2 linked regions of the Homo sapiens genome follow. The protein of the gene in region 2 interacts with the protein of the main gene of each other region in a biochemical or structural test. Each region holds a gene or a part of one and is shown on either strand. Other genes may lie near its edges.

Region 1 (3,500 bases), on a different chromosome or scaffold from region 2:
TAATTTTTGTATTTTTAGTAGAGACAGGGTTTCACCATCTTGGCCAGGCTGGTCTTGAACTCCTGACCTTGTGATCCACCTGCCTCAGCCTCCCAAAGTGCTGGGATTACAGGCGTGAACCACCATACCCTGCCTGTTTTGCACATTTCTATTGTAAAACCTATGCTCTCATATTTTAAGGGAAGAGGCAGAAAAATCTATTACTGAGACCTTTGTATTAATAAATAGGTTGGGGAAGACATGGTTGTATCATAATGCAATTTAGTGGTTGCTTTGTATATTTATGAATATAAGAATAACACCCTATGTTGAGTTTATCAGTAGGAAAGAGACAAGTAAGAAACTGATCCTAGTTACAGAATTTGAAAGTGGAAAAAGTTTGTAGGTCTATCCAATACCTTATCCAGTGCTGCACGAATCTGTTTTATATTTATTAGACTTTTCCAGTATTTGTTTATTCACCTTAAATAACTTAGAACTGATAGGGAAGTTATAAAATTACAGTATTGTGTACCAGAGGTAAAAGAACTTCTTAGAGAGGAATTCTTTATGTAGGCAGAAAAATCTCAGAACCATTCACATTGCAAAATAGCAAATTAATGTTTATAGGAAGAATGATTAAGAAATCGATTATGCTCACCATTGTCAGAGTTGAATATTGGATAGTTTTGGGACAGTTCTTCTCAACATGCAATCTGCAAGAAAATTAAAGCCCAGTGTACCCTAAGAGGTTTTCAAAGTATGATCTGTGGATCACTGGGAGATTCCAAGACAATTTCATGGGTATGCAAGAGCAAACTGATTTTCAAAATAATTCTAAGACTTCATTTGCCTTTTTTTCACTGTGTTAATGTTTACACTGGTATTGCAAAGCAACTGTGAGTAAAATTGCGGGCTCCTTAATGCAAATCAAGACAGTGGCACCAAACTGGTTTTATATTATATTTTGTAAAAATTATATTATTCACCATTATGTAAAGAATAAAAGACATTTCTCTTCTAAAATATCCTCAGTGAAGTGTAAAAAAAATTTTTTAAATTAAATTTTGACCCTTGATCTCATGAAACCTTGTTTGAGAAGGCTGGGTTAAGACTTCTTCGAAGTGGTTTTTTTTTTTTTTTTAAATTTCCACTTAATGCTAAGCACTGTGCCATGTGTTGAGGAAATAGCATGTGGTATAATTCTTTCTCTTTAAGAACTTTATAAGCTAATTGGAAAGGCAAAACTGTATTTTAAAAAATAGGGGGCTGGGCGCGGTGGCTTAACGCCTGTAATCCCAGCAGTTTGGGACGCCGAGGCCAGGGGATCACTTGAGGTCAGGAGTTTGAGACCAGCCTGGCCAGCATGGTGAAACCCCCGTCTCTACTAAAAATATAAAAGTTGGCTGGGTGTAGTGTCACATGCCTGTAATCCCAGCTACTTGGGAGGCTGAGGTGGGAGAATTGCTCGAACCTGGGAAGCAGAGGTTGTAGTGAGCCAAGGTGGCACCACTGCACTCCAGCCTGAGTGACAGACTGAGACCCTGTCTCAAAAAAAATAAGTAGTGATAGCACCAAACGTAGGGCTATGCTGTATAAATCCTCTTGAAATTCAAAGATGGTGTTATGTAAAACATAGAACTTGAAATGGACTTTGAATAGAGTTTGAATACATAGAAGACCGGGCATTTCAAGTGAGGGGTTTAGGATAGGTTCAGTCTTATTTCAGTTGAAATGCTGTGACAGACAACTAACCTATTGTTTAGTTACACAGAATAAGATTAGTTATAAGATGGAGCCAACTTGTGAAGTAGTTTAAAGCTAGGTCAAGGAGTTTACATTGATAAAGGTAGTAAATAAGCAGCCATCACATAGTTTATATAGGGAAATGATTTGGTTAAGCTTTCATAAACATTGCTTTTATATAGTAATACAGGGTGTTCCAGTGGGTAAAGATATGATTAGGCCACACTGAGGACTTATCAGCTAAACCTGTAGTCTCCCACATGTGAAAATAGACACTAGGTTTTGTTTTTATCTTATAAGCTCCATGAGAGCAGTGATGTGTCTGTCTTTTTTACCTCAGATTCTCTAGCATCTCTCTGGCTGTTTTCCTATCAGTTGCTGTGCTTATTCCATTTCTCTTTAGTTGCTGAGATGAAAATGTTGTTGAACTTTTATGGCCTTAAATTTGGTGTGTAAAGTAGAAGGAAGAATTAGGGACTAATATCAGCTATAACATATTTCAGCAGACTACCTGCTTTTGTCATTTGACTCTCTTGTGACCTAGTGTGAATAATTTTGGATATTTTGGTGACCTCTTAATTCCTTTCTTAGCAAGGTAAAAGCTGTGTTGAAGAAATCTGCCCATTTTTTTCTCTGAACTCAAAATTATGTCCAAAAGTAACATGTATTTTTTAAAAATTAGTTTTCTTTTTATAAGTCACAATCAGGACTTTACTGAGGGAATAATAATGTTGTACCATTAAAAGTAGTAAAGTGGCCAGGCTCCGTGGCTCACGCCGGTAATCCCAGCACTTTGGGAGGCCAAGACGGGTGGATCACCTGAAGTCAGGAGTTCAAGACCAGCCTGGCAAACATGAGGAAACTCCGTCTCTACTAAAAATACAAAAATAGCTGGGTGTGGTGGCGCACGCCTGTAATCCCAGCTACTCAGGAGACTGAGGCAGGAGAATCACTGGAACCCAGAAGGCAGAGCTTGCAGTGAGCCAAGACTGTGCCACTGCACTCTAGCCTGGGCAACAGAGTGAGACTCCATCTCAAAAAAAAAAAGGTAGTAAAGTGGTTCATATCTACATTCTTATTTTTCTAATTATTTGTCATCTCTATAAATTTAATTTGTATATCTTTTTATAAATTTAGAGAAAAGGTTGCATTATATAAATTGTTAATTTCAGAGAAGGCACTTGTACCAAATATTCAGATTTATGTTAATATTTGTCAAATATGAATTTATATTTAATCATAATATTGTATGTTATTAAGTTTCACAGGAGTGTTTTTATCTCTTACAGGAAGCTTTTGTCCAGTGATCGAAATCCACCAATTGATGACTTAATAAAATCTGGAATATTGCCCATTTTAGTCCATTGTCTTGAAAGAGATGACAAGTGAGTACATTATTTATTTTTTTTTTTTTAATTTAGAATGTATCCTTTGGAGAAGACAAGACTCTAGTAATTAGTTTGATCTTTAAAGAAAGAAGAAAAGGGCTATGGGATGGAGTTGAAAAGTCAAAGTGAAAAGCAGTGCAAGGTTTGTTAACACCAAGAGATGAAGGTAGTAGCCAAAAAAGGAACTTGAGAATGATAAATTTAACTTTTATGCTTTGAAAATTGGCAAGAACTAGTTTGACCAGATAGGTACTTGAGAAAACTGTTTGGGGAGTAGTATGCAAGTATCTTAAAAAAGATTTCTTACTAAAAATCAGGATGCTGGAGGAGGTTGTATGCTTTTTATACTGAAGAGATGTTTTAAACAGTTGTTGAGGGTTAAAAAAA
Region 2 (3,500 bases):
TAAGATATTTGAAATTATACAACTCACAAAAGTTGACTTAAACTTAGGTTTTCAGAAGTACATCTTTGTACAAAATAAAAATATAGTCATCAATCACTTAAGGATGGGGATATGTTCTGAGAAATGAGCCATTAGGTGATTCTGTCATGGGATCATCACAGTGTACTTACACAAACCTAGATGGTACAGCCTACTACACACGTAGGCTAGATGATCTATACAGTCTATTGCTCCTAGGCTACAAACCCTTACAGCATGTTACTGTACCAAATACTGTAGGCAACTGTAACACAATGGTAAATATTTGTGTATCTAAACATAGAAAAAAAGTAAAAATACAGTATTTTAATATTGTGAGACCAATACTATGTATGACATCTGTTGTTGACTGAAAGGTTATGAGTGGCCAGCTATGCTGGCTCATGCAGGTAATCCCAGCACATTGGGAAGCCAAGCTGGGAAGATCACTTGAGCCCAGGAGTTGGAGACCAACCTGGGTAACATGGCAAGACCTCATCTCTACGAAAAAAAATAGCTGGACATGGTGGTGTGTGCCTGTAGTCCGAGCTATTCAGGAGGCTGAGGTGGGAGAATCACTTGAGCCGACAGGTTTAAGGTTACAGTGAGCTATGATCACACCACTGCATGTCGGCCTGGACAACCAAGCTAGACCCTGTCTCTAAAAACATAAAAATTAAATCGTTATGTGGCATGATTTTATTTCCTCCTGATAGTTTACGTAGAAGAACAAGAATAAGTGTGTACATTTTCATTTTAGGGGCTTTAGGAATTACAAACAGTATTAACTCTTCTCTGGGGAAGGAAACAATTACTGAGAGAAACAGGGAAGTGGTGTAAGTAGAAATCTGCTATGATATCTCTAGCTGGGGCAAAGAACTTCTAACCTCTCACTCCTAAGGAGTAAATATGGTAAGAAAAGGGGAGGAGCTTAAAAAGTAAGTAATACATTACCAGGGAACGAAACATCCTTATGGTTTGCAATTTGCCTTTTGATGGTCCACCATTTACTTCGTAGCCATTGTGGTGAACGGACACTACTCCATCCCTCAGCTAACAGATCCCAGTTAATGTCATTTTCATCAGCTACATCAAGTTCTGCTATCCTACAGTTACAAAATAAGCATCGTTAGACATTAAATTAATTTCTCTATAAGAACCCCTCCTCTGACTACAGGTAATTGCACTGGCAAATAAAGGGAATGGCAGGTTATGCCAATGAGATGCTATTGTTAAGTTACACGGGAAAGGATTCCAGGAGTGCAGATCTGCTTTCAGAGCTAACAGCTAAGAAATACCAACAGCAACCACTTTTAATTAAAGGTACAACCAATGGGCTAAACTATAAATGGTTAGAGCCAGATGAGGCACTGTGAAGGAAAAGGAGTATGCTAAAGGTTAGAATAAGAACAGATTTAGTTGTATATATGCAATGTTTCATAGTGTGGCATTTACTAAGTCATTTACTTCCTGGATCTGAGCGTTTCCATTGTTAAGCAAAAATATTTAGAAATGAGCTATTTATAAAGATGACTAGTTGAAAAAAAAATCCAAAACAAAATAACACAAAAGCAATAGCTGCAATCAAAAAACAACACAACAGTACAACAAAATTTGAGGTTTAAAAAAATCTGTTCGTTTTCTAGCTTTGTTGTGACAATTTGATTTTCGGTAGGGAGTAGCCATGGTGACAGTCTCTATTACTTCAGGGTCTTAAATAATTTCTTGCTAGTATTTTTGCCCATTTTAGTTAATAAATCTTAATGGTTAAACCAGCTACTTAAAAAAATAAGCTGGGATTATGATATCTTAAAGCTTTTTTGAATTTGTATGAAATGGATGTGTTTGATTTGGTCTACTTTGGAGGTGTGGAGGTAACTACAGACTGGGCCCCCTTCTTGGCAATCTTAGCACAGTAGCCAAGGATTGAAGGGCATGGAGACTGAACAGCCCTCTTATCCTAAACGTGTTCCCCCTAGGCTAGGACTGAGGCACATTGGTGGGACAGTGGAAAAGCTACACTGCCGCTGCCTGTGCCATACCTGTTCTGTGGATATAGAGAGGACTTCAGTCTCCACGCCTTCAATCTGGTACTTTGCATGAGCACTAAACCCACTAAAAAAAAAAAGGAACAAACACAACACAAAAAAAGAGCTCAATATGAAATACTTAAGATCTTAAACAGTAGTGCTCTATGGAAAGGATACTTTTCAGACACTAGGCATCCAGGAAAACCAAAAGAGGAAAGTCTATCAAGACATCCACAGAAATTAAGTTGCTTTTGTCATTACAAGATTCAGGACACAAACCTGAGGATGAGATTGATTTCATCTTCCTTGGTCCATTCAGTACCCCCACTCTGTTTCCAATTCAGGTAGTTGAGCCATTTAGAACGACATTGCTTTTCTGAGCGGGTACCGACTCGTTCAGCCACAGCTGCCCAAGACACACCCTGTGTGACTATGTCACCTGGCTCAGTGCTTGTCAACTCATGAACCACTTCTGCAAGTCTCTTTTCTTCTTCTTCTGTCCACTTCCCTGAAAAAAGGAAATCATCCAGACTACCACTGCTAACTTCTTTTACAAATCTGATTCAGCCCTCTATTTACAAGGACTGATAGGAAGTAAGCAATAGTACTAAGAGTTTGTTTCTGAATGACCCTCTGGTGGAAAACCATATATACCCACTAAGACAGTTTCATTTTACTAGCCCAGTAAGGGTCTCAGTAGAAAAGAAAATAAAGAATCCTAATGGAAAGCACTGACCAATTATGAAAAGAAAAACCACCCAAAACATAACTACAAAGAAGAATGTATTCTCAAGTTACACTAAGTCCTTTATAAACAGTGAAGTGGGAAGAGCTTCGTCAATGGCTGACAGACAAGAAATGGCATGCTTTTTTTCTTACTGTCACCTAAGATTCCCTGCTCTGCAAAAGTAAGTTCAAGAGGCCATTACTTATAGGAATGAATGATGAGGGACAAGGGAAATTACACCAATGGGCTCAACCTATTTTAGTAAAAACTAGGTTTCTACCATCTTGTTTCCTCACTATCCCAACTCCAAGCTACTGTGATGAAATATTAGTAAAGTCTGATACAAGTATTTACTTTTATTCCTGTGTTTTCTCAACCCATAAACCCACTAATAGATAACCCCAAATGTTCCTCTCTGTCTTTTTCTTATGGAGCTAGAGCAGAAAAACAGAAAGGGAAAAAAGCCATTTTTTTTCATCTTCTTTACCTCTGTTTCCATTTTGTTATTACTAGCTGAAAACCTCTAGAAAATTTCAAAAAGACTGTGCTTGCTTTGGGATTCCATTCATCTAGCAAATGTTTATTGAATTTTCATTATATGCCAAGCACAATTATGAATACTGTGGATGGATTCAAGACAAAGTTCTACTCTCCTATTCTAGCATGCTGTGAAAGGATGGGACTACTTTGAGACTGTGCTGTTTCATGGCATGGCCTCATCAGCA

The links. Proteins that work in one complex are often made in the same cells at the same time.
Region 1: the proteins of DMTF1 (region 2) and KPNA4 interact in a test that uses a peptide from one of them, tested with the Homo sapiens proteins (one study listed by BioGRID).

Annotation. Positions count from the first base shown.
Region 1 is NC_000003.12:160,531,072-160,534,571, reverse strand, and holds part of KPNA4 (importin subunit alpha-3), read left to right. Parts: intron 1-3,014; coding exon 3,015-3,110; intron 3,111-3,500. UniProt on the Homo sapiens protein: Functions in nuclear protein import as an adapter protein for nuclear receptor KPNB1. Binds specifically and directly to substrates containing either a simple or bipartite NLS motif.
Region 2 is NC_000007.14:87,183,453-87,186,952, reverse strand, and holds part of DMTF1 (cyclin-D-binding Myb-like transcription factor 1), read right to left. Parts: intron 2,557-3,500; coding exon 2,328-2,556; intron 1,125-2,327; coding exon 973-1,124; intron 1-972. UniProt on the Homo sapiens protein: Transcriptional activator which activates the CDKN2A/ARF locus in response to Ras-Raf signaling, thereby promoting p53/TP53-dependent growth arrest. Binds to the consensus sequence 5'-CCCG[GT]ATGT-3'.